7 linked regions of the Homo sapiens genome follow. The protein of the gene in region 7 interacts with the protein of the main gene of each other region in a pairwise test. Each region holds a gene or a part of one and is shown on either strand. Other genes may lie near its edges. The genes, in order: PNPLA6, TBRG1, ACOT2, TM4SF1, SELPLG, TP53I11 and SLC13A1.

Evidence for each region.
Region 1: the proteins of SLC13A1 (region 7) and PNPLA6 interact in a protein complementation assay, tested with the Homo sapiens proteins (one large-scale study listed by BioGRID).
Region 2: the proteins of SLC13A1 (region 7) and TBRG1 interact in a protein complementation assay, tested with the Homo sapiens proteins (one large-scale study listed by BioGRID).
Region 3: the proteins of SLC13A1 (region 7) and ACOT2 interact in a protein complementation assay, tested with the Homo sapiens proteins (one large-scale study listed by BioGRID).
Region 4: the proteins of SLC13A1 (region 7) and TM4SF1 interact in a protein complementation assay, tested with the Homo sapiens proteins (one large-scale study listed by BioGRID).
Region 5: the proteins of SLC13A1 (region 7) and SELPLG interact in a protein complementation assay, tested with the Homo sapiens proteins (one large-scale study listed by BioGRID).
Region 6: the proteins of SLC13A1 (region 7) and TP53I11 interact in a protein complementation assay, tested with the Homo sapiens proteins (one large-scale study listed by BioGRID).

Annotation. Positions count from the first base shown.
Region 1 is NC_000019.10:7,545,717-7,549,216, reverse strand, and holds part of PNPLA6 (patatin-like phospholipase domain-containing protein 6), read right to left. Parts: intron 1-3,500. UniProt on the Homo sapiens protein: Phospholipase B that deacylates intracellular phosphatidylcholine (PtdCho), generating glycerophosphocholine (GroPtdCho). This deacylation occurs at both sn-2 and sn-1 positions of PtdCho.
Region 2 is NC_000011.10:124,621,364-124,625,663, reverse strand, and holds the start of TBRG1 (transforming growth factor beta regulator 1), read right to left. Parts: upstream 2,801-4,300; 5' UTR 2,581-2,800; coding exon 2,431-2,580; exon of another isoform or gene 734-2,430; coding exon 663-733; exon of another isoform or gene 1-662. UniProt on the Homo sapiens protein: Acts as a growth inhibitor. Can activate p53/TP53, causes G1 arrest and collaborates with CDKN2A to restrict proliferation, but does not require either protein to inhibit DNA synthesis. Redistributes CDKN2A into the nucleoplasm.
Region 3 is NC_000014.9:73,572,213-73,576,155, reverse strand, and holds the end of ACOT2 (acyl-coenzyme A thioesterase 2, mitochondrial), read right to left. Parts: intron 2,769-3,943; coding exon 2,566-2,768; intron 1,871-2,565; coding exon of another isoform or gene 1,787-1,870; exon of another isoform or gene 1,749-1,786; intron 1,249-1,748; coding exon 643-1,248; 3' UTR 501-642; downstream 1-500. UniProt on the Homo sapiens protein: Catalyzes the hydrolysis of acyl-CoAs into free fatty acids and coenzyme A (CoASH), regulating their respective intracellular levels. Displays higher activity toward long chain acyl CoAs (C14-C20).
Region 4 is NC_000003.12:149,374,850-149,378,987, forward strand, and holds the start of TM4SF1 (transmembrane 4 L6 family member 1), read right to left. Parts: upstream 2,801-4,138; 5' UTR 2,699-2,800; coding exon 2,522-2,698; intron 921-2,521; coding exon 831-920; intron 740-830; coding exon 594-739; intron 1-593.
Region 5 is NC_000012.12:108,623,895-108,627,394, forward strand, and holds part of SELPLG (P-selectin glycoprotein ligand 1 isoform 2 precursor), read right to left. Parts: intron 419-3,500; coding exon of another isoform or gene 414-418; coding exon 1-413. UniProt on the Homo sapiens protein: A SLe(x)-type proteoglycan, which through high affinity, calcium-dependent interactions with E-, P- and L-selectins, mediates rapid rolling of leukocytes over vascular surfaces during the initial steps in inflammation.
Region 6 is NC_000011.10:44,948,084-44,952,252, forward strand, and holds the start of TP53I11 (tumor protein p53-inducible protein 11), read right to left. Parts: upstream 2,801-4,169; 5' UTR 2,594-2,800; intron 2,078-2,593; exon of another isoform or gene 1,890-2,077; intron 1-1,889.
Region 7 is NC_000007.14:123,123,470-123,126,969, forward strand, and holds part of SLC13A1 (solute carrier family 13 member 1), read right to left. Parts: intron 2,207-3,500; coding exon 2,100-2,206; intron 1-2,099. UniProt on the Homo sapiens protein: Sodium:sulfate symporter that mediates sulfate reabsorption in the kidney and small intestine. Can also mediate the transport of selenate and thiosulfate.

The sequences.
Region 1 (3,500 bases), on a different chromosome or scaffold from region 7:
AGACTCCGTCTCAAAAAAAAAAAAAGAAAAAAAAGAAACATGAAGGAGAGAATAAAGACTTTGGATATAAGCACCATCTATATATAAATATAAATAAATATAAAAATATTTTTTAGCCGGGCGCGATGGCTCATGCCTGTAATCCCAACACTTTGGGAGGCCTGAGGCAGGCGGATCACGAGGTCAGGAGATCGAGACCATCCTGGCTAACACGGTGAAACCACGTCTCTACTAAAAGTACAAAAAATTAGCCAGGCGTGGTGGCGGGCGCCTGTAGTCCCAGCTACTTGGGAGTCTGAGGCAGGAAAATGGCGTGAACCCGGGAGGAGGAGCTTGCAGTGAGCCGAGATCGCGCCACTGCACTCCAGCCTGGGCGACTGAGCGAGACTCCGTCTCAAAAAAAAAAAAAAAAAAAGAAAAATTTTTTTACATAGATTATATATAGATGAGCAGCATCTCTCTCTCTATATATATATGTGTGTATATATATGTGTGTGTATATATATATATATGTTCCATATACCCAGGATTCAACCAACCTTGGATCTAAAATATTCAGGAAAAAAAAATTGCACCTGCGCAGACCATTTACAGACTATTTTCCCCGTTTTTCCCTAAATAATACAGTATAATGACTATTTACATAGCATTTACATTGTATTAGGTATTATAAGTAATCTCGAGATGATTTAAAGCAAGCTTGTCCACCCTGCTGCCCACGGGCTGCACGTGGCCCAGGATGGCTTCGAATTTGGCCCAACACAAATTCATAAACTTTGTTAAAACATTATGAGATTTTTTTTTTTTTTTTGCGATTTTTTTTCTTTTAGCTCATCAGCTATCTTTAGTGGGGTTTTTTGGTTTGTTGGTTTTGAGACGGTGTCTTGCTCTGTTGCCCAGGCTGGAGTGCAGTGATACAAACTCGGCTCACTGCAACCTCTGCCTCCAGAGTTCAAGTGATTCTCCTGCCTCAGCCTCCCAAGTAGCTGAGATTAAAGGTGCCTGCCACACGCCTGGCTAATTTTTGTATTTTTAGTAGAGACGGGGTTTCACCATGTTGGCCAGGCTGGTCTTGAACTCCTGACCTCAGTGATCCAACCGCCTTGGCCTCTCAAAGTGCTGGGATTACAGGTGTGTGCCACTATGCCCAGCTATAACTGTTAGTGTATTTTATGTGTGGTCCAAGACAATTCTTCCAATGTGGCCCAGGGAAGCCAAAAGATTGGACACCCCTGATTTAAAGTATACTGAAGGGGCTGGGTGTGGTGGCCCACAACTGTAATCCCAGAACTTTGAGAGGCCTAGGTGTGAAGATCGCTTGAGCCCAGGAGTTCAAGACCAGCCTGGGCAACATAGTGAAACCCTGTCTCTACAAAAAAAAAAAAAAAAAAAAAAAAAAAAAAAATTTTTAATTAGCCAGGCATGGTAGCATGTGTCTATAGTCCTGGCTACTCTGGAGGCTGAGGCAGGAGGATTGCTTGAGCCTAGATGTTTGAGGTTGCAGTGAGCTATGATAGCGTCACTACACTCCAGCCTAGGCTACAGTGCAAGACCCCGTCTCTAAAATAAATTAAAGGCCAAGTGCGGTGGCTCACGCCTGCAATCCCAGCATTTTGGGAGGCCAAGGCAGAAGGATCGCTTGATAGTTTCAGCCCAGGAGTTGGAGACCAGCCTGGGCAACATAGTGAGACCCCCGTCTCTAAAAAAAGTAAGAGTAAAATGGGCAAAAGATCTGAATAAAAACTTCTCCAAAGAAGATATACAAATGGCCAATAGGCACATAAAAAGCTGTTCAACGTCAAGTCATTAGAGAAATGCAAAGCAAAACCACAATGACATACTACACTTCACACCCACAAAGATGGCTAGAATTACAAAGGGTTAGAGAGAATGTAGAGAGACTGGAATTCACATACACTGTCAGTGGAAATGTAAAATGGTGCCGCTGCTTTGGAAAACAGTCTAGCAAAGAAACAAACAAACACACAGTGCTTAAAAAAATTAAAAATAGAGGCTGGCCATGGTGGCTCACATCTGTAATCCCAGCACTTTGGGAAGCTGAGGTGGATGGATCACTTGAGGTCAGGAGTTCAAGACCAGCCTGACCAATATGGTGAAACCGTGTTTCTACTAAAAATACAAAAATTAGCTGGGCGTGGCAGCGTGTGCCTGTAATCCCAGCTACTCAGGAGGCTGAGACAGGAGAACTGCTTGAACCTAGGAGGCAGAGGTTGCAGTGAGCTGAGATCGCGCCACTGCACTCCAGCCTGGGCGACATAGCGAGACTCCCTCTTAAAAAAAAAAAAAATTGAATTGGCTTATAACCCAGCAATTCAACTCCTAGGTATATACCCAAGAGAAATGAAAACATATGTCCAAGCACTTTGGGAGGCCAAGGTGGGAGGATCACTTGAGCCCAGGAGTTTAAGACCAGCCTGGGAAACATAGTGAGACCCCACCTTTAAAAAAATAAATAAAATATATGTCTACACAGAAGCCCTTACATAAGGCCGGGTGCAGTGGCTCATGCCTGTAATTCCAGCACTTTAGGAGGGTGAGGCAGGCGGATCACCTCAGGTCAGGAGTTCAAGACCATCCTGGCCAACATGGCGAAACCCTGTCTCTACTACAAATACAAAAATTAGGTGGGCATGGCCAGGTGCAGTGGCTTATGCCTGCCTCAGCTTCCCGTGTAGCTGGGACTACAGGCATGCGCCACCATGCCTGGCTAATTTTTTTTGTTTGTTTTTTGTAGAGACTGGGTTTTGCCATGATGCCCAGGCTGGTCTCGAACTCCTGGACTCAAGAGATCCTCCCGCCGCGGCCTTCCAAAGTGCTGGGATTACAGGCGTGAGCCACTGTGCCCAGCCTAAAGTATATACTTTAAATGGGTAAATTGTATAGTACATGAATTATAGCTCAATAAAACCATTACACCCCCCCAAAAAATATTGTTTCACTTGAGGCCCACTGACTTCCTTTTTTATTTCTTAGAGATCAACCTATTTCTTCCCACCACACAACATTTGCACAAGCTCTTCCTTCTGCCTAGAATGACCTTTCCTCCCACCTGCACCCAGTTTGTTCCTCCCCCTCCTTCCTTCTTAGGTCATGCCCTTAGAGGTGCCACCCTGTCTAAGCCAGACTTTGTAGTGCCAAGATCATTTCCTTTGTGACACTAAGCACTTATGATTTTACAAGAATTTGTGTAATCCTTTGAGTCATGTCTCTCAGAATACGGTGGGCTGCCCAAGGGCAGGGACCACTAAGGGTTTTCCCTGCCCACTTTTTTTTTTTTTTTTTTTTTGAGACAGGGTCTCACTCTGTTGCACAGGCTGGAGTGCAGGGGTGCGATCTCAGCTCACTGCAACCTGTCTCCTGGGTTCAAGTGATTCTCCTGCCTCAGGCTCCCGAGTAGCTGGGACTAGAGGCGCCCGCCATCGTGCCTGACTAATTTTTGAATTTTTAGTAGAAATGGGGTTTCACCATGTTGGCCAGGA
Region 2 (4,300 bases), on a different chromosome or scaffold from region 7:
CAGGAAGGAAAGGAGCAGAGAAATGAACTTCCGTATTGTCTCAATTCAGTATTTTACTCAAGTACTGGGAAAAGCCAGAATTATATACAAAGATTACTATACTCATAAAAGAAAGGTTCTTATTAGGCCCTATGAATCATAAAGCCCTGGAGGATAATCAATACTTCAAGAGGCCAAGGATAAGAACTGTAGCTTATCTCTTGCATCTGGACGGTTCCTCTACCTTGATGTTGGACGGTGTTAGGCTTCTGAAAGGCACATTATTTACACATGTATATATACCCATTGTGCTTTGCACAGAATAGTACGTACAGAATAAATATTTGTAGAACGAGAGGCAGTTGCTTTTATCACTTGGCTTTTATAATTGGGCCATAAGATTAAATAATCTTAGTAAGATTATTTATTAGATGTGGCAAGATGGCTTTTTCAGAAAGATGAGTAGAGGAGCTGTCTCATCGCCATGGCCCAACATAACTTGGGTGTGCAGGCACCAATGCCTCAGGCTGTAAGTTTCTCTGTGCTTGATCAAGTGGCCAAGGGGCTGTGCGATACGCATCAATCCCACTGGGAAAAAAAGTCTCCAGAGCAGTAACACCATTATCAATCACCAAATCAATCACCAAAAAGGTGATGCTGAACACAAAATGAAGCCAGCTCACCTTCTTTCTTCTTTTGCTTTAAGAAATTTTTCCTCAAGACGAGCAATTTCATCACAAATAGCAGCATTTTCCTTTAAGTAAAAATGTGAATATAATAACATAAAATGAATAAAAAAATCACATTATTATGCTGGGAAGAGGATCCATATTTCAAACCAAAAAAGCTTGTATTACTGAGAAGAAGGAGCTATTCGACCGTGTGACAAACTATAAATAAATCCATAGATAAAGGTAGTCAGGTTCTACTATGGACAGGGTATAGCTATGTAATTTATTATCCAATCCGGGACATCTTTGAGTGAAAAGGGGGTACTATTAATGCTTATGCCAGAACAATACGGTGAACCAGGACTGTCCTGGGCAAGCCAAGATTAATGGTCACCCTAATTAGTATAGCCTTTGGCAAAGAAAAAGGCATACTGCTTAAATCCTTATATGCTTAAATTAAATACTATAAATATGAAAACTGTCTATTCCCAAGTGCCTCAACTCTTGAAAAACTTACAAAGCCAGTCTAACCCAAATAGAGAAAAACTGGACAGAACAAAATCAAATTTAGTGTGTAAAATTCTTAAACTTCACAATCTACTTATACGAATTCAAGTATTATCTTTTTTCTTTTTTTTTTTTTTTTTTTTGTAAATGATGACTCAATCTATCTCCCAAGCACCAATCCTGAAGGGAATGCTGAATCTGAATGCCCCCATAGGTGGAACTTCAAACTCTCAATGTTCAAAACAACATCGCTTTTTCTTCACAAAATCTTCATTATGTATTTGATGGAACCAATATCCTTGAAATAACATAAATTCCAAGCTTTAGGTACCTTTGACGTATAGGGGATAAAAGAAAGGGAACAGTCAATCAGATGCTAAGTTCTCTTAGTTTTACTTTTCTTGTTTCTCTCCAGTGCAAATAGCAAGCAATACACATAGCAAGTGCTGAATAAGTGCTTTTGGAATGTGTATTCTAATTTCTGAACCTTTCCTTATGCTTCCAAAAATGCTGAGAGACGTTCAAGCTTTTGGTAGAGAGAAGAGATGAACTGTTGACTTGGATGTGGGGGGACATTTGAGGACTCCACCCCTATTTCCAAGCACTGAGGCAAGCCAAACTATTCTAATATAAAGTTATGGCTGGCAAGCTATATTAAGTTTATTCACTCAATAAATCCAGTGCTTCTACAATAAAAGAAAGGAAGAAACACTTGGAACACTCAAAGGTTAGAGGGGGGAAATTACTGACAGTTTCATGTACCTCTTTGGGCAAAGGGTCAGTTATGGGGATTTGAGGTGCTCAGAAAATAGTCTGTGTACTGGAAGTCATAAAACGGAATCAGGTTTATCTAAGTTGGAGTCAGGGCTCTGACACAGTACCCTTGGGCAAATCATCTCTCTGGGCTTCAGTGTTCTCATTTTACAAATAATGCCTAATTCTCAGGGCTGTATCTCGAGAATCAAACACATTTCCTAGAGTCCTGCAGTAACAACGATGACTAAAATTTATTGGTATGTCTTTTACGCACCAAGCACTTTTCTTTACTCATTTAATATTCATTATTCTGCAAGACAGTTACTAGCTCATTTACAGATGAGGACACAGAGAAATTACGTAATTTGTCCAAGGACACAAGGCTAACAAGTAGTAACGTATACGGAAAAGCCAACACTGTATTAATACTGTCACACTGGGAAGGGGGAACAGCTTGGGGAAAGATTTTGTGAGGGAGTCTCCAGGAGGGGACCGGCTGAACGTGGGTCAGACTCACAAACACCGTGGCCTTGGCCGCTTTGCGCAGCCGCAGGTACTTCAGCCGGTACTTCTCATTCTGGCTCTTCTTCGGGAGCTTTTTCATCCTGGCCTTGCTGGACTGCAGCGGAGCCCGCGGCGAGGAAGCGAGGCCGTCCAGCAGGCTCATGGTCCAGCCCCGCTACGGGGGCCCCAGGACGCTGCCGGCATCGGATCCTAAGTCGGGGAGCGGGCGGGAGCGCTGGCTTTGTCTGTTCCGGGCTAGCGGAATCGGGCCTCTAGGAATCTAGCTCTCCGGGACGTTCCCAGGGCTGACCGCAGGGCCAGAGACACCCGCAACCGAACGGGCTCCCGGCGCCTCCCAGCACTTCCGTGTCTGTCTTGGAAGTAAGCCCTTCCCGGAAGTTACGTCCCGGTGTCGGCAGTGTGTAACTTCCGGGGCAGGGAGAGTAGGGTGGTCTGGGCGGTGCGATCGTGGGCACCGGGAGGAAAGAGACAGCTGGGGGCTAGTGCTGGATGAGGAGAGGAGGGAGGGCCGGCGGCCGTGTGCTTAGCTGAAGGGTACTATAGTTGAACCAACGAACTAACAAGAAGCTTACCAATGCGAGCTCTCATTCACGCTCCCCCGCTGGGCCACTGCGTTTTAATACGTTTTTCATGCTTCGTGCAGACAGGCTTTCCCAGACTGTAGGACAAAGTGAGCCCAAGTGCTGGGACTCTGCTTCTTTCCCTGCTTCGTTCCTTTCTGCAGCTCACAGAAATGTGTTTGCAGGGCCTCCTAATGCTATCATCTTCCCAGGAGCTGGGAACACAGTAGTGAACAGGAAGAAAGGCCTTGGCTCTTTCTAGTAGGGAAGATGAGAGATTTAACACGCAGTTTTAATACTAGCACTAAGTAGGCACTCAGTAAATGTTTGTCTAGTGAAACCAGAAGTGTATTTCTGTACATAATATGTACATGTATATGGTTCTAACTTTACAACCAAGGTCTATTTAAAATTAGGGAAGATAGAAAAATCTTTAGGGTGCGGTATTGGTAAGTGACCCAGGCTGGATGGCAGAAGGCTTGCTTGCATCTTCTTCCAGCGATGCCAATAACTAGTTCAGTAACTCTCTAGTTTTTTCTCTCAAAAAAAAAATTTGCTGTTCTGCTGTATTTTGTCCTTGCGGGCTTTGGGGTCTGACTTTATTTGTATTATTTATTTTCATATACATGTATCACATCTAGGGGGAAGAAAAGTGCTATCCTTTGTCCTAGTTTGCAGGCTGTTTTGGCCAATGGACTTTAGTGGGATTTGCATGAAGATATTTTTTGTTTCTTCTTCATTGGACACATTTCCTTACACTTACAAAACATTTCATTCGAACTTTAGAAATTTAGAAAATATAGTACAAGAAAGGTTTAAAAATCCATAATGCTACCACTTGGAATGAACTACTTTTACCATGTTAGTATATGTGTCTAATATTTTATGCATTTTTGTATAGGTTAGACAATACTGAAAATAAAGTTTTCTTTTTGTTCATTTACCATTGTATCATTTCAGTTTCACAAATGTTAGTATAGCTTCCTTATAAGCATAATTTTAAGTGGCTGGTTAATATTCCAGTTATGGCTATATTATATTTTGCATAATTATTTCCATGTTCTTTGACTTTTTGGTCAATTCCATTAAAAGCATATCTTTGCGTCCAAAGCTTTTTCCATATAGGACTGTTCAGAGGCTGGATATGTGTGCTCCACAAAGGTCATGCCACTGAGCAACTCATTCAGTCCTTATTTGTTTAGAAGAATATTTACCTAGTGCCTATTATGATACCACCTTTAAGAACCTTAATTTAAGAAGGAAAGACAGACAAGTAAATTGGCAATGTTAATATGGTATAAT
Region 3 (3,943 bases), on a different chromosome or scaffold from region 7:
TTGCTGTTGCCCAGGCTGGAGGGTAGTAGCACAATCTTTTCTCACTGCAACCTCTTCTCACTGCAACCTCCGCCTCCCAGGTTCAAGCAATTCTCCTGCCTCAGCCTCCCAAGTAGCTGTGACTACAGGTGCCTGCCACCACGCCTGGCTAATTTTTTGTATTTTTAGGAGAGATGGGGTTTCATCACGTTGGCCAGACTGGTCTCAAACTCCTGACCTCAAGTGATCCGCCCACCTCAGCCTCCCAAAGTGCTGGCATTACAGGTGTGAGCCACCACGCCTGGCTCACTTATACTCATTCAGCAAATAATTATTGAACTCCATTTACGTACCAGACACTGTTAATTGATGTTACTCACTTTTCCTTTCAGAACTAAAGCCTTATCAGTTGTGTGTTGAGATAGGAAGAGGAGACTTTTTCCACTTCTTGTGTTTCCTACAGTTACTCCCTTCCCAAACTGATAAAGTATACAGTTTATAAAAATCTTAAAAACTCATTCTTACTGGTAAATTCATTTTAATAATGAGGGGAAAAAACTTTAGTTATTAAAAACAAAAGAATGAATACACATACACACACTAAATGTGGCAGATGTTTCCAGGAGAGATTAGCAACAGAGAGGCCACATGATCAAATAAAATTTACACTTTTGATGGGATTGTCCCCTCGTGGCCACCCAAGTGTTTGTGGAAGAAAGTCTGGAGTTGTTTCCAAGCATCCACCTGAGCCATGGCATGAGCCCTGGGCTCCCCTCCCCAGATAATAGGACTGCCCACCAAGGCATGCAGGGAAGCCCGACACAGGGGGAAGTAAGGAGGCTCAATATAGTGCCCTGTCTCTGGGTAACAGATGATCTGGGGCTTTCTCCTCCCATGGGCCTGCAAGCGTTTACAGGCCTCATTAGCATAGAACTCACTCTTCCAGTTGTGGTCATCCTGACCTACCAGGAACAGGAAGGTGCTCTCTGCCCTTTCCACAGGAATGAAGCTCTTCTGGTCAGGTCCTTCCAAAGGGCTGTTCAGGACATCCACAATGTCTGCATAGCCATCTTTGGTCACCTTGATGCGATTTCTGTTGACGCCCACAGGGGGCAGGGTCTCGCCCTTGTAGTGTAAGGTTCCCCCAACATTGGCCACAGAGCCGTTGATGACGACAGCAGCCGTGATGCCCTTCAGGAAAGAGGCCATGGAAAGGCAGAGCTCACCCCCTTTGGAAATTCCAAGCAGCCCAACTCCTGGACCTTTTACCTGAGAAAGGGACAAAGGAAAAAGAAGAAGAATGATTCCACAAACAGTGGAATATGGTGAGTTGTGTCCACCCTGGAAGTTAGTTGAACCTGAGTCTGAATCTAGGTTCTACCATTTACCCAGATTTGCAACTTTGAGAATTTACCTCCCCTCTATCTCTTCCTTTCCACAATTTGTCCATCACCACTCTTGGTGATAACCATGTGGAAGATCTATCAATTATTCTCTGGTTTCTCAGTTCCTTAATCTCGTATCTCCCATGATCTTTTTCTGTCTCCCACCTGAGCCACCCATTCCCACTGTCATAACTAAACTGAGTCATCATCAACAAGTACATCATCTCATGGCCGGGAGTGGTGGCTGACGCCTGTAATCCCAACAGTTTGGGAGGCTGAGGCGGGTGGATCATTTGAGGTCAGGAGTTTGAGATCAGTCTGGCCAACATGGTGAAACATCTCTACTAAAAATACAAGAATTAGCCGGGCAGTAGTGGCACGTGCCTGTAGTCACAGCTACGTGGGAGGCTGAGGCAGAAGAATCAATTGAACCTGGGAGGTGGAGTTTGCAGTGAGCCGAGATCATGCCATTGCACTCCAGCCTGGGTGACACAGCAAGACTCCATCTCAAAAAAAAAAAAAAAAAAATACTGGAATTTAAAATTGCATAATAACAACTACGAATCTCTTTACTAGCAGGAAATATAGTAATATAGAATTGAATAGAAACTGTCTATAAGAGGCCAGGTGTGGTGGCTCATGCCTGTAATTCCAGCACTCTGGGAGGCCAAGGTGGGCAGATCACTTGAGGTCAGGAGTTTGAGACCAGCCTGGCCAACATGGCGAAACCCCATCTCTACTTAAAAAAAAAAAAATACAAATATTAGGCTGGGCATAGTGGCTCATGCCTGTAATCCAGCACTTGGGTAGGTCAAAGCAGGTGGATCATTTGAGGTCAGGAGTTCAAGACCAGCCTGACCAATATTGTGAAACCCCGCCTCCACTAAAAATACAAAAATTAGCCAAGCATGGTGGCAGGTGCCTGTAATCCCAACTACTCGGGAGGGTGGGGCACAAGAATCACTTGAACTTGGGAGGTGGAGGTTGCAGTGAGCCAAGATCGCACCACTGGACTCCAGCCTGGCAACAGAGTGAGACTCCATCTCAAAAAAAGAAACTGTCTATAAGAAGTGACTAAAAAAGGTAGTGTGTGTTGGGGTAGGGAATGGCTGTCATGAATGAGCTAACTTCTGTGAAAACCCAGACCATTTAAGAAGAGACCTGATACATCATAGCCCATAAATCTGAAAGAAGAACTAACCTCGGGATGACTGAGCAAGTAGTTCATGGCTTCTTCAAAGTACTCCAGATGGAGCGTCTCCATGGTCTTGGGGAGGTCTTCATAGTTATAATAAGCCAGAGCCATCACAGCAAAACCCTTCCCAGCCAGCAGACTAGCCCGATACTCCAGCAGGCCACCTCCAGTTCCGAACATGTCCACAATCCCAGGAAAGGGCCCAGGTTCTTGGGAAGAAACAAAACAAAATGCAAAACTAAGCTATTCCTGAAACAGTTGGATGGTTTAAGTTAAACATATACTTACCACACATGTGACCCAGCAATCCCACTCCTAGGTATCTACCCACGAGAAATGAAAACCTGTTCGTCCAGAAACCTCTGGCAAGTGTTTATAGTGACTTTACTCGTTGTAGCCAAAGACTGGAAACAACCCAAATGTCCTTTAACTGGTGAATGAATCCATTTAATGGTGCACCACCAAGAAACAAAAAGAAAGACTGCTACATAGAAGAGCACAAATTCCTCTCCAGTGCACTCAACAGAATGCACTTACTCAACGGAGACAGACTCAAAAGGCTACTCATTCTGAATGACTCCACTTACTGATATTTTTATCATTTACATTAAAGGTTTTGTGTTTCACACAAAATTAAATAGTAATAATGCAGGCTGGGTCCGGTGGCTCACGCCTGTAACCCCAGCACTTTGGGAGGCTGAGACGGGTGGATCACCTGAGGTCAGGAGTTCGAGACCAGCCTGGCCAACATGGTGAAACCCCATCTGTACTAAAAATACAAAAATTAGCTGGGTGTGGTGGCGGCCACCTGTAATCCCAGCTACTCGGGAGGCTGAGGGAGGAGAATCGCTTGAACCCGGGAGGTGGAGGTTGCAGTGAGCCAAGATTGTGCCACTACTCCAGCCTGGGCGAAAGAGCGAGACACTGTCTCAAAAAAAAAAAAAAAAAAAAAAAAAATGCAAACACCTTACAGGCAACACTTTTAAGACATAGTTCAGTGCTGATACCCGCAAACCATCAACGTCCCACAGACCCCTGTGCCCTTTCCTCTCTTTCCAGTATCCTGGACTTTCTGTGTATCACTCTTGGTTTTCTTCATAGTATTACCACTTAGATTATGTACCTTAATATTTTATTTTGCCTAGTTTTTGAATTGTATCTAAATGGAATGATACTGAATGTGTTCTCCTAGGGTTTGACTGTTTCACTCAACAGTGGTTTGGAGATTCATCCATGTTGATTCTTTTTTTTTCTTTTCTTTTGTATATCTTGATAGATGTTGATTCTTGTAGCTGTAGTTCAATCACTTTGACTGCTGGAAATATACCTCAATTTATTAATCTGTTCTATTGTTGATGGACATTTGGACTGTTTCCAGTTGACT
Region 4 (4,138 bases), on a different chromosome or scaffold from region 7:
TATTACACTTAATCAGGCAATTGTTCTGGTATAATGTATGAAGTAATTGAGATGCACTATATGAACACAAACTCTACATCTAGACTGCCTGGGTTCAAATGCTAACTGCCACTTTCTGGCAACGTGACCTTGGATGAATTACTCCATCTCTCTGTGATTTTGTTTCCTCATCTTTAAAATAGGAAGTCACTTCATAGGGTTATTATAAGGACTGAATTATTGAATCTATTCAAAAGCACTCTGTATTTGGGAAGCTGAGGAAGGGGTATTGCTTGAGCTCAGGAGTTAGAGGCTGCAGTAAGCTATGATTGTGCCACTGCATTCTAGCCTGGGTGACAGATCAAGACCCTGTCTCTGGGGGAAAAAAAAAGAAAGAAAGAAAAGAAAAGAAGCATTTAGAATTTGTTTAGGTCGGGGACTGGGGATCCATCCTTGGATACCTATTGCCTAAACCATGCCTGAGTCAGTGAGAATAAACACTGGCTAGGTGGGTGGATGGATGGATAAGTGGATGCCTATCTGGTTTGATAGAGCTGCCACTATATACATGTGGTGGATAAAAATGTGTAGCCATGTAGAGAGTAATTACATACTGGCCCTCAGTGCTGGCAAAGGTGTAGTTCCACTGGCCGAGGGAATCAAGACATAGTGGTCCTTCTGCTAAGCCAAGGGCTGCCACAATGACACAGTAGCCAGATCCTGCAATTCCAATGAGAGCAGCCAATACAGAAGAAAGCATCTAGGGAAAAGCAGACACACAGGAAGTGAGCCACAGAGTGCCACAGCTACATCTTAGGAGTCATTTTCACCACCAGGGCAGGAGGACCTACCGCACATCGTTTGCCACAGTTTTCATGGCCACAGCAGCCACAGCAGTCATCCTGTTCCAGCCCAATGAAGACAAATGCTGGCAGGAGCATCTGGTTAGGAAACAAACAAAGTCAGGTCATTGTCTTGCTCAGGCTCATATGGGTCAGGTTAGGCATCTCTTGGTAAAATATATTTATTTCCAATGACATTAACTGGCTTTGATTAGGTTGACCAGATATCTCAAAGAATGTAAACCTCTGAGGAGAAAAAGACCATTTAAATGTCATATCTGCTTGTTTTCATGTAATCTGTCAAAGCATTTTTTAGGGTGAGGATGTAACATGGGAGGAGTAAAATAATAAACTGTAAACGTGTTTATTCCACAAGAGTTTATCACACGACCCCAGATAACAAACTCTGTTTTGGAAATATTAAACCCTTTCTTTAAATCTGATTTTTTCCACTTGTAAAATGCAGAATATACCAACAAATCTTTAATAGAATAACTGAAACTTTTTTGTAAATGGGAGACATGAAAGCTATATATAATAAATATTAACTGCTTCCTTGATTATACAAATGCATAGTTTTAACTTAACAATATTAAGCTCTTAAAATATAGTAAATATGAAATACTTCAGGTTCAAGATCGAAAGAAACTTAAGTGTGATGTTATGTTTAAGACAAATAATCATGTTAACATGATAATAATGCTTAAATTTGAGGCAGACGGGCACTGTGGCTCATGCCTGTAATCCCAGCACTTTGGGAGGCCAAGGTAGGAGGGTCACTTGGGCCCATGAGTTCAAGACCAGCCTGGGCAACATGGCGAAACCCCGTCTCATTAAATAAAATAAAATTAAATAAAATCTCATTAAATAAATAATTTAGGGCAGATTTGCCATGCCATAATCAGTGTATTAGGTTTAAATGTTTTACTATCTTTTACTTGATTAAGAAAATTTATCACGTATGGTACCATTCCATAAAATTTCTCCTTAAAATTTTTAATCCCAGCACTTTAAAGTAGCAAACTTAAGTTTGCTCACATTCTTTCCATGCTGTGGTTGAAGCTAATGCTTTCAGCTCCCAGGTTGGCAGGGAAATTCCTCTCACTTCAATCAAAAACAATTCTTGGAAAAAATAACACATTCCACTATTAGCTTCAGACACCGACCTGCTGCTAACTGTAGGGTTTTTCCTAGACGCCACACCCCAGCCTTACATAAAGGAGAAAGCTTAGAGTTCTTTTAAAATAGCAATGCACTCACAATTCATTATTTTTCCCTATCACAGATGGCTGAAAATAAACAGCAGAGAATTTGGATTCAAAACTGTTGATTTAGGCAGAGAACCAGCCAACCCCTTCCGGCTCCCCAGAGCAAATGTTAAATGACTGCCCGTTCTAGTAGAAACTCTATAGTCTCTCAAATCTGATTTAAAAGCGAATATCTGTTTCCTACCTATAGAGTTTAGCAAAAAGGCAGTTCACTTTTAGTTGAAAGAGCATTTTGTAAAACAACATCTCATAAAATTACTACGCTATACTGTACCAATCTCGCTTTTGTATAATCTGCTTTCAAAGGAATGAACAGCAACAAAAAAGTCACTTGATTTAGAAATATGCATTACAAAAAACTTTCCATGAAAATACATAATGAAAACATCTAGGAAACAGGAGAGAATTCAGTAATAATCCTGAATGACTTACCAGCAGGCCACCTCCTACGATGCCAGAAAAGAACCACACGAAGCGGCTGAGGTGGTTTTCGGAGGCATACTTTGTTTCCCCATTGGGAAAGTAAAGCAAAATATTAGCCGCGATGCACAGGAGGGCGAGCCCCACCAGAGAATGTCCGATGCATCGTGCACACTTCCCATAGCACATGGTGGTCTGCTAGGTTTTCTCCCCCTTCTCTTTGTCTTCAGCTCAGTGATACCCCAAATTAGATGAAAGTGTGCCCTTCTGGTGGAGAAAGCAAACACCACTCTCAGCCCATTCCTGCTACCTCTTAAATACTGCGATTCTTAGTCACTGAGGGGATGAGGTACTTTGCTTTCATTGGTCCTAATGGCAGGCTCTGGCTGTGGTGCGAAGAGGCAGGGGGAATGTCCCGCCCTTCAGACGAAATCCTTGGGACAGGCAAAACCAGGGGCAGGATGTGAGAAACAGCCTCAGTCATAGGCAACAGGGAAAATGATTAATCTTGAACAAGGCATTGACTGTGCAACTCCTCCACAAGATAAAGAATCAACAGGAAAGCCTAACATGACTTTCCAGTAACTGCCAAGTGTCCGAGATGCAACAGCCCTGGTTGAGGCTTTGAAAGACAGTGAGCTGTGCCCCTGCTCCATGCAGCTGTCTGGACAGCTTCCAATCTGAGAGCTCTGTGTTCATTTCTACCTTTGTGCTGATTTAATTTACAACCTGGGGCAAATCTCCTGAGCTCATTTCCTTGTCTATTAAATACAAGGTGTCTGAGACGTCTCCCATGGATTTGAGAAGGCTGTTGGGAAAACTACAGAGCAAACTTCTTTACTCTGCCTACAGCAAGCTCTGCAGGATGGATTTCAGTGTTCAGCGTCCCTGGACATCTGCCTCTAAAACAAATCTGCACCACAACAGAGGTGGCATCAGTCAACACAAAGGGCTCAGGTGCTTTTTAAAAATTATTGAGTGTTGCTGTCAGGAAAAGCAATGCCAGGAAGGGCCAAGGAAGGCCTAAAGCATGGGACAAAAATAAAAAGAGGAAGAAGAGAGGGGGAGGAAGAGAATGGGAGAGAAGGAAAGAGGAAAGGAGGAAGGAAGAGAGGAAGGAAAGAAGAGAAGGAGGGAGAGAAGGAGAGAGGGAAAAAGGGAGGAAGGGAGGGAGGGAGGAAGGAAGGAAGGAAAAAAGGAAGGAAGGATGGGGGGAGGGAAGGAAGGAGGGAGAGGGAGAAAAAAATAAGACAAAGGGACTTGGCAAGCAGAGTGGAGAAACAAGGTTCAGAGAAACAGAACTGGCTAGGAGTGTCAGAACCCACACAGAGGTAAACAGATGGTTTACCCAGCCAGATCCTGAGACCAGCTTCCACAGGCTCCCCACACAGGGCAGAGAAAGGGTGTTAGACTAACTTTCTAGGTGGTTACCTTGCAGAAGGAGGGGCTGGGCACTGAATAAATTTATGCCTTGAACAGCAGATTGCACCAGCCAGTGGATGGTGGTGGGAGGTGGACAGGGTGGCCGGGTGGGGCCAGGCCTGGAGGGCCTTGTCACCAGGACAAGATAGAGAGTACAGAAAATAGAAAAGGACCAAGGTAGGGAGGCATTAGCTTAGAAGAAGAAGG
Region 5 (3,500 bases), on a different chromosome or scaffold from region 7:
GGCACTGGTTGAGTGGTCTGTGCCTCCGTGGCTGCTGGTTGAGTGGTCTGTATCTCCATAGCTGCTGAATCCGTGGACAGGTTCCCCATGTTGGCCAGCTCCGTGGTCAGCTCTGTGACTGCCCCTCCTGCATCCAGGCCAGTAGAACGCCTTGCAGCAGGCTCCACAGTGGTAGACTCAGGGGTTCCAGGCCCAGTCAGAGGAGTGGTGTCAGTGCTGTTCCTCAGCATTTCTGGAGGCTCCGTTTCTGGCAGGAAATCATAATCTAGGTACTCATATTCGGTGGCCTGTCTCCGGTCCCGGGCAAGCAGGGGACCCAAGGCTTTCTCGGCTTCATCTGCCCAGGTGTCCCACAGCTGCAAGCTGTTGCCAGGGCCCAGTAGGATCAGCAACAGGAGGAGTTGCAGAGGCATGGCACCTAGGAGGAGACAATGGGCGGAGGGATGTCAAGACAGTTTCACCCTTGGGCTTAGCAAGCACCCTAGACCACCACCCTCTACTGCCACAGCTGGAAGCATGTCTGGTCTGGAGCAGGGACTGGGGACTTAGGCATCCCTGACATGCCTGGGATGGAGAAGATCCTCAGCCAGTAGCAGTTATTATTATTACTCATCAACATGAATAAAGCCATCCAGGAGGGCCCTTTAACTTCTTCTAGATGGTGCATAGAAATTGATTTGCCTCCCTCTCCATTTTGGTTAAGCCACTTTATTTGTGGACAAGACAATCCACTGGGGTGTAGAAAGATTTAGTGCTTCTGCTTCTAGTTCTATTAACTTTTCATGTCACTCCTTTTTTCTTTTTTTTTTTTTTTAGATGGAGTCTTGCTCTGTCACCCAGGCTGGAGTACAGTGGCGCTATCTCAGCTCACTGCAACCTCCACCTCCCGGGTTCAAGTGATTCTCCTGTCTCAGCCTCCTGAGAAGCTGGGATTACAGGCATGCACAACCACACCCAGCTAATTTGTGTATTTTTAGTAGAGACGGGGTTTCACTATGTTGGCCAGGCTGGTCTCAAACTCCTGGCCTCAAGTTATCTGCCCACCTTGGCCTTCCACAGTTCTGGGATTAGGCATGAGCCACTGCGCCCGACCTCATGTCACTCCTTCTTAATTTCAAGTATTACATTATTTATAATCTATCATAAGAGTAAAGTAGTACCTGCACAGAATTCATAAATAGATTAATTGACCACTTACGAAGTCCATAAGCAGAAGAGTTTGTAAACCACAGACCTCCCAGATACCGCTGCTTATTGGACCTTTGAGGCCTCTTGGAGTCTGATTCTACCTGCTGCCCCCTCTCCCTGCCCACTGCCATGCCACCTCTATATGTCTGTCTTCCTCCTTCTCCTATCTTGCTTCCACCCTCCATAGCCCTTGCCAGTCCTCAGAGTCTCAGTTTGTCTCATTCCTTCTCAATGTCTTGTCTTGGTCCCATTTGCTTTGGTGGTGTTCTTGCCTGCACAATGCACAACAGGGATGACGGTGCCTACTTCACAGCCTATTGTGAGGATAAAATGAAGGGATGCATGCAAGACCCTTAGCACTTCGTTTGCATGACAACCTCTCCGCAAAGACTGGCTGATTTAGTTCTTTCAGTCAACCTGCACTATAAGTCTTCAAGGGCCCAGGGCTACTTAATTACACTCTCCATGGCCAGGAGAAAACTCAAATCTCTTCAGAACAGCCCTGCTCTCAGGAAGCTTATAGTCACTGAGTGTGCCTGTGGGTAGGACCACTGTCTATTCAGAGACTCTACATTGTCCTCCCTACTAGGTAGCCAGAAAAGACAGTGCCTCTTGTTTGGTCATCTCATTGATCTTTCTTCTTGGCATTGTGAACACCTGTGCTTTCTTGTTTTCTTTCTCTCCCCTCATGCTCTCCTTGGCACTGGCTGGTGTTTACAGAATTAAAAATTCTATGCTGAGAATCCTATGGTGAGTGACAGCCACGTTCTGGGGCAGGATTCAGGTATTCCTGCATTCCCTGGATATAACACCCTTCAGCAGCACACAACTTTTAGAATAGTGTCTGATGCAGAGTGGGCATTCAAGAATAGCACCCGGACAATTTCCAGTCTCTTCCTTTGTACTTCATTCACATGATTTGGAGGAACGAACAGTTGCTCATCATTCCTCGGGTGACTGTAACTCACTCACGGGCCCCTCACCTTCCAGCCAGGTTCAATCTGATCTCTTTCATATGTTAGTTAGAATTATGTTGGTTTCTTTTCTTTTTTTTTTTTTTTTTTTTCTCCAAGACAGAGTCTCGCTCTGTTGCCCAGGATGGAGTGCAGTGGCACGACCTTGGCTCACTGCAACCTCCGCCTCCCGGGTTCAAGCAATTCTCCTTCCTCAGCCTCCCAAGTAGCTGGGACTACAGGCGCACACAACTATGCCCAGCTAATTTTTGTATTTTTAGTAGAGACGGGGTTTCGCCATGTTGGTCAGGCTGGTCTCAAACTCCTGACCACAAGCAATCTGCCCACCTCGGCCTCCCAAAGTGCTGGGATTACAGGGCGTGGGCCACCGTGCCAGGCCTATGTTGGTTTCAAATATGCAAATCTGATCATATCTTAAACTAATTTATTTCCATTTATTTATTGACTTACTTATATTAGAGACAGATTCTCACTTTGTCGCCCAGTCTGGAGTGCAGTAGTGCAATTATAGCTCACTGCAGCTTCGACCTCCTAGGCTCAAGTGATTCTCTCACCTCAGCCTCCTGAGTAGTAGGGACTATATGCACATGCCACCACATCTGGTTAATTTTTAATTTTTTTTTTTTTGTAGAGACGGGGTCTTGCTGTTGTCCAGGCTGGTCTCAAACTCCTGGCCTCAAGCAATCCTCCTGCCTCGGCCTCTCAAAGCACTGAGATTATAGGCATGAGCCACCACACCCGACCCACATCTTAAAATAATTTCTTAGGCCAGGTGCAGTGGCTCACGCCTGTAATCCCAACTGTTTGAGAAGCCAAGGCAGGTGGCTTACCTGATGTCAGGAGTTCAAGACTAGTCCGGCCAACATGGTGAAACCCTGTCTCTACTAAAAATACAAAAATTAGCCGGGCGTGGTGGTGCTCCCTGTAATTCCAGCTATTTGGGAGGCCAAGGCAGGAGAATTGCTTGAACCTGGGAGCCAGAGGTTGCAGTGAGCCAAGATCACACCACTGCACTCCAGTCTGGGAGACAAGAGCAAAACTCTGTCTAAAAAATAAAAAAATACTTTCTTAAACCAAACTTTACGATATTTGCACCAGAGACATCTGGCCCTCACAATTATCCCCATTTTACCAAGGACCACACTGAGGTTAAGAGAAGTGAAGTGACTTGCCCAAAGACACACAGCTGGTGAGAGGTCAAGATCAGACTGAAACCCAGTGAGGTTCAGGAAGGCATGAGGCCGTCAGGAGACACCTGACCTAGTTGAGGAGACAGAAGGCTGGGCTTGTGGACTTGGGTGGGAGAGGGAGGGCAGAGTAAGAAAAAGGAGGAGCTTG
Region 6 (4,169 bases), on a different chromosome or scaffold from region 7:
CGATGCTGCGCTGGCCCTGGGAGGGGTCCAGCCAGTGTAGCAGGATAAACAGTGAGACACAGGGTGCCGGGGAGGTATCGTGGACCAGGAGTCAGAACATCAGGCACCCCGCCCTGCAGCTGCCTCTCCTGGCCTGTGTGTCCTGGGGTGACTGACATACTGTCTCTGAGCCTCACTTCCCTCACCTGTGAAAGGGGAGGAATTCATCCCTTCTCAGTCACTCACTCTTCCTCAGCCCCTCACTCCCTGCTAGCTGCAGGGTAGGCACATTCCAGCCTCAGGGCCTTTGCATGGGCTGTGCTCTAGCTGTCTACACAGCTCACTCCCTCATCTCCCTCAAGGCTGTAGCTCAAAAGTTACCTCCTCAGGGAGACCTCCCTGACACCCTATTTAAAATGACAACCCGGTCCCTGGCCTCAATACCCCCAACACAACTTTTCCCCTTCACCTCTCAGTACACTATATAATTTGCTTATTGTTTTTATTAGGGAATTGCCTCCCCCTGCCCCCTGCTTTTAAGCATCAGCTCCATGAGGACAAAAATTTTTATTTTGTCCACAGCTGTCTCCCCAGTGCCTGAAACTGTCCCTGGCACTTTGCTCCATAAGCCATTTTTGGTGTAATGCTCACAAACATTTTGTTCAATAAGCAAAAGTAAAGAACAGCCCCAAACTGTGTGACTATGGGGCATTCCTGTTAAATCCAGCCCCCTCCTCCCCCATACCCCAAGAGGGGCAGGCCCTTCTTCCCACAGAGGTGGGGCTATCAAAAGAAATTGGGAGGCTGGGTGTGAGCTGGAGAAGCCACAAGGGGCCTGGAGGCAGAGCTGTGCAGAAAATAGGTCGCAGTCCTAGAACTGGCAGGTCATGACAGCTGGACATGGGTGAAGGGGCTTTCGGCCTTAGCCCTCCACTCCAAATTTGGAAGCACGGAGGAAGTTGACGACATGTGACTGGGAAAGAAGCGGCCATGGCAGGGGCCTCCTGGGATGGTGGGGACAGAGGGGGCCTCAGGAACAAGACGACCCATTTTACAGATGGGACAACAGAAGCCTGGAGAATAGTCTTATTTCCTAACAACCCAACAAGAAAAATCTTTTCTCTCCTTTCTCGAAGTCTGGGGCTGAGGCTAAGGAGCGGACAGTGCCCCCTCCTGGCTCTGCAACAAAACGACCCCCGCGTCCCTGGGATCTGCGGGCCGCAGATCCTGGTCCCCTCTCCACAGGCCGTCAGGGGTGGAGGTCCAAGGGACCACATAGTTGGGGTGGGCAGCCCCGGTGACTTCTCCCCGCAGGCCCGCCCCGTCAAGAAGTTTGTTTGAAAGAAACCAATCAGGAAGTGCAGGGTAGTGGGGCGGTGAGGGGGCCTTGGCCAGCCGCTCTGGGCTTTGGAGGAGCCTGGGGGTTCTTGGCCTCCGCGCTGCTCTTGCCCCAGCCTCCATCTCTCCGGCGGAGAAACCCACTCCCCCCGGGCTCCAGGAAGAGGCGGAAGCCCGAGACTGGGTCAGGGCGAAGGAAGGTAGAGCGAGGGGACCCAAGGCGAGCGCCCCGCCCCGCCCCGCCCAGCGGGGCGCGCCGGGGTGGGCGCGGCGTTCTGGCCCTTCCTCCACACAGCCTCCCCCGGGTAGGTGCGAGTGTTCTGCCCACGGCAGGGGCCCTAACCCACCCAGCGCCCGGCCAGTGGCCCCACACTGTACCCTTCCTGCAGATCGCGCGACTTTGGGGAGAGTGGGGGGCGTCTCCACCTGTGCGTCCCCTACCCACCCCCTAACTGGGCTAAGGCGCGGCCTGGGTTTCTGCCCGCCCCTTTCCAGCCTGGGGACGGGGGACTCTCTCAGCCTCGCCCCTCCCCCTGCAATCTGTCCCTGATGTCCCCGCTCCAGACACTCACCCACTTTCTGAGACCCAGGCCTCAGCGCCGGTGTCCCCCGGCGGTGAGCTCCGAGCCGTTAGGCGGCCCCGGGTTCTCCGGCCCAGGGCCCCTGCCCCCAGGCCCCCACCCCAGAAGGTCGGGCCAGACTTGTGGGCAGCGGGAACTCCGCCACCACCTCCGTCCGCGGCCCTGCGGGGGCAAAGACTGGGGGAACTCGCAAGTTTGCGCCGCGCACTCCTCCTGCCGGGAACAATGGCGGGAGGGGGAGGGGACAGAGAACCGAGCGCGGGGGACCGAGTCAGACCCCGGGGAGACAGAAACTGCTTTCGCTCCGTTTCTCTCCTGCTCTGAAGCAGAAAGCTCGAGCCCGAGAGGCAGTGGCCGAGGACGAAATAAGCAGTCCAGGAGGAGGGCGACCGCGGAGCCGGGGGAGAGGGGAAACCGAGTCAGAGGGAGGGGCGGCGAGGGGAGAGCGCGCAGGGGAGACGGAAGGGGCTGCGGGACGGCGCCTTGGGGAGCTGGGGAGGCGACCCCCTGGGGTCCCAGCGGGCTCAGCGGGTGCCGAGATGTCCCGGGGCGCCCGGTTAGCGCGCGCGGGGTCCCGGCCGCCCCTCTGCGGTCCCGTCGGCCGCAGGAGCCCCGCTGGGTTGCGCTGCGCAGGCGGCGGGCGGCGGGAGGGGAAAGTCCGCGGCTCGGAAGCGGCGGCGGGGAGCAGAACTTACGGGCCTCGCGCGTGCCGGCGCTGGGCTACGTGGAGCTGATGCCAGGCGGAGGCTCCGGGCTCGGACGCCTCACATCGCGCCGCCCGTGCCGGGCCGGGCAGTGCAGGGCAGGGCAGGGCAGGGCAGGGCAGGACAGGGCAGGGCAGGGCAGGGCCGGGCCGGCTGGACTGCGCGCGGCGCCCTGCGCGGCCGGGGCTTACCGAGTCTGGCGGCCCGCGCTGGTCCCTCCTCTCGGTTCCGCGCACAAGCCAATGGCGCGCCGTCCCCTCCCACGCGCCGGGCTGCCTCGCCCCCAGGGTGGCCGCCGGGGCGGGCGGGATGGGGGTTGGCGGGGAAACCAGGCTCCCGGCTCCCCCGCGAGGCTCTCCCGGGGGCCGCCTGCAGGGGGCGCACGCGCGCCCGAGAGAAGGCGCCGGGGGAGGAAGCCGCGCGGGGAGACCCTGGCGTGGCCCGCGCCGCCCAGGATGACTTTCCTGGCAAGTTCTGCAGACGGTGCCCCTTTCTTGGGACGATCAACGTAGATGGGCAAACCACACCATCTTAAATAGCCTTGCGGTGTCTCCCGGGCCCAGGCCGGTGCCTGAAATGGAAGGGACTGCTTTGGCTGGCGGTGATACCCAAGTGTGTAATAACACAGTCACGACAATAGTCACCGTTTGCTGCGCACTCTCTGATGCCAGACACCATATGCTAAAGGAGTTACAAGTATTAACTCATTTGATTTTCACAGCAACCCATAAGGGCGCTGTGCTTAGTCCCATTTTACAGGCCATGGTCGTTAAAGTTTGAGTTCACTCAGCCTTCAGGCTTCCAGCCTAGGCCCACCCTTCTCTCTCCCTGCTTGGTGTGACTTGGCCAAATAACATGACCCCACTGTCACTACGGCCACCTTCTTCATACTCCACCCTAAAATCCAGCCTCAGAGATGCTGCTGTCAGTTGCGCTGTCAGGAGGCTAGGATCTTATCTGGGGCTCTAGGACGCTTGTTGGCGCTACAGTTGTCAAACCTTTTGTCTCTACACATCCTATGGGGGGCTGGGGTGAGGATGAGGGTTGGGGGTCATGGAGGCTCTCTGGTGGCGTGTCAACCTGAGAGAACCAGGCTCCTACAGACAAGGCCCCACCCCCAAATTCTGGGCTCCTTCAACCCCTTATGGTGGGAAAATAATGTGCTCTCTCCCACCCCAACCCCCACCACCCTGTGCTCTCCTTAGAGAAATGCCTGGATCTCTTTCATCTGATCTGATGGTCACAGTGGGCCAGGAACCGGGGTGGGGGGCTGCGGGAAAAGGAAGGCAAGGCTGATGACATGCTCCATTTCACAAGTAAATAAGACAGAAAGAGGTGAGTGGCTGCCTCAGGCATCTAGCTAGGTGGGCATTCTGACTCCAGGTCTCGGTTCTGTCTGCACCAGTTCCTTAACGGTTAATAGAGCAGGCTCTGGAACCAGATCACCTAGGTTCAAATCCTGACTCTGCCTTTTAGTGCCTGTGTGGCCTTGGACAAAGTAAGTCACCTAGAGCAACCAATAGTAAGAACCGGCTATGGTTGCTGTAGAGATTTAGAGTTAATAGGA
Region 7 (3,500 bases):
ATATTTCAATAAATTATAACATTGTCACTTATAATGGTACTCATTCATTCACTCACTCATTCATTTATATTCCACTAACATCTTTGCCAACTGTGAATAGCACAGTGCATTAGACTATAATATTCTTTGCTATGCAAAATGTCCATAATATTCCATTGGTTCCAATAGCATCTTGTAGCATTTTAATTATTATCCATTAATATTTGAACATTTTATTAGTTTTTAGGTCATAAGGAGGATCATGATAGATTCACCAAGATTTCAGTTTAAAAATAATTCAAGATTCAGATTAAATAAAGTATTATTTATGAGGTTCTTAAAGTGCTTATAAAAGGATTATCATAAAGATTTCTCTTTATATTTGGCTTCTGATCTCTCCATTGCTTTGTTGATAAAGAAGTTCATTTGGAGACATATTCTGCCCATTTAACTTGTGTATAACAGGCAGCCTTCTACATGGTAAGATTTTAAGTTTACCAATAAGCTTCCTTCCTATCATCTTCCCCCAAATCCAAACCAAACCCATCCTCACTGATAACTGAAATTATGTCACCAGGTTTCTTACTTTAAGGTCATATATCTTGTTAAAATGTAAACATCTCTGACAAGTACTTCTTATTTAAAATTTAACATATTTATATATTATTTGTCATTTTTAAGCCTTGTATGAATGACTTTAGCAGGGAGAAGAGGTTTTGAAGAATGAGGGGAGAGAGAAAGGTGGGTAGGAGCAAGGCTCTTTCTAAGGGAGGGAATTCAGATGTGGAAACCAGGGAAGCTAAAGCCAAACATGGATTCCTCAGTACTTGCCACTGCCAGACCTCAGGGCTTTGACTGCAATGATCAGAGTCCTTGGGGTCCCATAGGAATCAATGCTCCATATTGCATCACCTCCTTAACACACATTGAGATATTCTAATCTCAAGTGAAAAACAAAGTACATTTGTTTCTATGCTGTGCTGGTCACATATGTCCTGGAAATCTGATACATTAGTCATTTATAGATTCTGACAAGAGTCAAGTGGGCCAACACAACTACATAAATCCCAGTTCCATCCCCATAAGAACAAACAAACAAAACCACAAGTCTACTAGTTAATTTCCAGACAATTACAAATTAGTTGTCCCACATTGACAAGATAGGAATCTGACTACTCAAAACATGCTGTGTTGTAAAGCAAAGATATGGATGAATCTTGTGTTTAAAAAGTGTGTGTGTCTGTGTGTGTGTGTGTGTGTTGAGAGGATGGTATGCTCAGGCAAATGTGCACACTTCTTTGTTCATGTGTTGTAAATACAATGAATGCTGTCACAGAATACCTTTTCTTTATTTTTATTACTATCATTATTTTTAGAGACCGAGTCTCCCTCTGTTGCCCAGGGCAGTGGCACAATCATAGCTCACTACAGCCTCCAACTCCTGGGCTCAAGTGATCCTCCTGCGTTGGCCTCCAGATTGGCCACCACACCTGGCTAATTTTTTTAATTTTTTGATAGAGCTGGGGTCTCACCATGCTGCCAAGGCTTGTTTCAAACTACTGGCCTCAAGTGATCCTCCTGCCTCAGTCTCCCAAAGTGCTGTGATTGCAGGTGTGAGCCACCACATCTGGCCCTTTTATTTCAGCTGTGATCCTAGGATATGGCTATGTGAGGTTTATTTAGCTTTTGTTCCAGAACTACTTTGAGAATGTAAATACTCTTTCTCTTGAAATTCATCACCTTTTTAGATCCTCTGCATTTATTACCAAGGTATCATAATGAAGCAGTGTCTTCCAAGTTCTTTTTCCTCTGTTTGCCAATAGTAAGATTAATTTTGAAGTGAGTTTACCATGGGTCAAATAGTATCGCTTGTAGCAGAGCCCTAGCCATGATACAAAAGGAAATCTACTTCTCACTTCTGCAAAGTAAGACGATCTCTCTTGAAGGTGGAAGCTGTGCTGGCTTGAAGACAGCATTGCAGTTTGCAAATAGGGCATGCTAGGCCAGGGATTGTGCCAGCATAGACTTTCTTTCTGCTCTAGGTGCCAAGCGAAACCAATGGAATTTTGTAATTTTTGCTCTTCTGTTAAATTTATGCAGAATTATAAATGATACTCAACCAATTTCTCCTGTAGGTGTAGTTTTAGTCAGTGTCTTAGCTGGGATAAGAAAGAATAGCAGCCCTATAAGTAAAGCAACAGTTGAATCTGTAGCAAAACCAGGGTACCTGTAAAAGGGACAAATACATGTATTAAAAATAGCATCAAGAACTTAAATGAGCTAAAACACCAATTTTGCTAATAACATATCAGTAATAGGTTATTATCAGTAGTAGGTGGTGTAGGTTATTTATCCTCAATAATCTGCCCTAAAATATATGGATTCCCGATTAAATGACACAACACTAAAAACAATAATCTCAGACCATAGTCTTATTGTTCCCATATATCTCTTCTTATTTTCAATACCACGTATACACATGCTGACATACTAGGCCAAAGTGGCAAATTTCCCTTTTAGATAAGCTTACAGATTTGTTAAACAATTTCTTCTTTGAATTATTTAATTTAATAATATTGATCAAGATTTGAAGTTGAAACATTGCTAGAGCATGGAAAGCCCCATATAATTGATTTATAACATCCTTCTATTAAATTGTGGCAAGGCGTGATATTTCTGTGTTCCTCTAAAGCTCTTCTATAAATTGTGAAAAGGAATTGATCTGTTTTCTGAGATATCACACCTGCTTCTGTGTTTATAAGCTCTAACCATATCATACAAAGGAAAGCAACCTACTTAATTTTTTGCACCCCATGAAATTCAATCAAGAATATTAATTGTTGGAGTGGTTTAGCCAATGCTCACAAATGATCACCATATAAATTAAGACTGATTCAGGAACAGATGGGGTCTTAGAATCACCAGACCATTGTAACAAATAAGACAGATTCCCAGAAGCCTCAACAGGAAAGAACCTGGAGACCAGATATAACTGAAATAGGCATTAATAATTAGCATTTAGTGTTAAAAGTCAGCAATATTAACTAGTGCATTTCTGTAGCCTGAGAAGAAATATGTACCATGCTAAAGATTCTTTTACTATCTTGCAACTCAGTAATATGTATACACTACCGAAGCTTCTCTACTTCTATAATTTATTTGAAAAATCTAAAAAGCCAAAGAAATGCCGTATCTTTCTCAATCTAGCAATTTTTAAAGCAGTCTACTTTCTTTAAGTATAGACACATTTTCTTTCATTACTAGTTAAAAATCTACCTTACCATAATTTATCTTACAAACTGGACCGATATTTATAATTTTATTATACCTTATTTCTTTTATTTCAGTTATAATTTTTGGTTGTATTTTTGGCAAATTGGGCCAGGCATCATGTAACCAGATTTCGTTTTATATAAAAAGACACATTGAATTCAGTCCAGGTACAAACAGATGGAATGAAAACATTAGGTGGTAGCTATAAATCTTGATACATCATGTTAGCTTTAGAAATTCTTAATGCC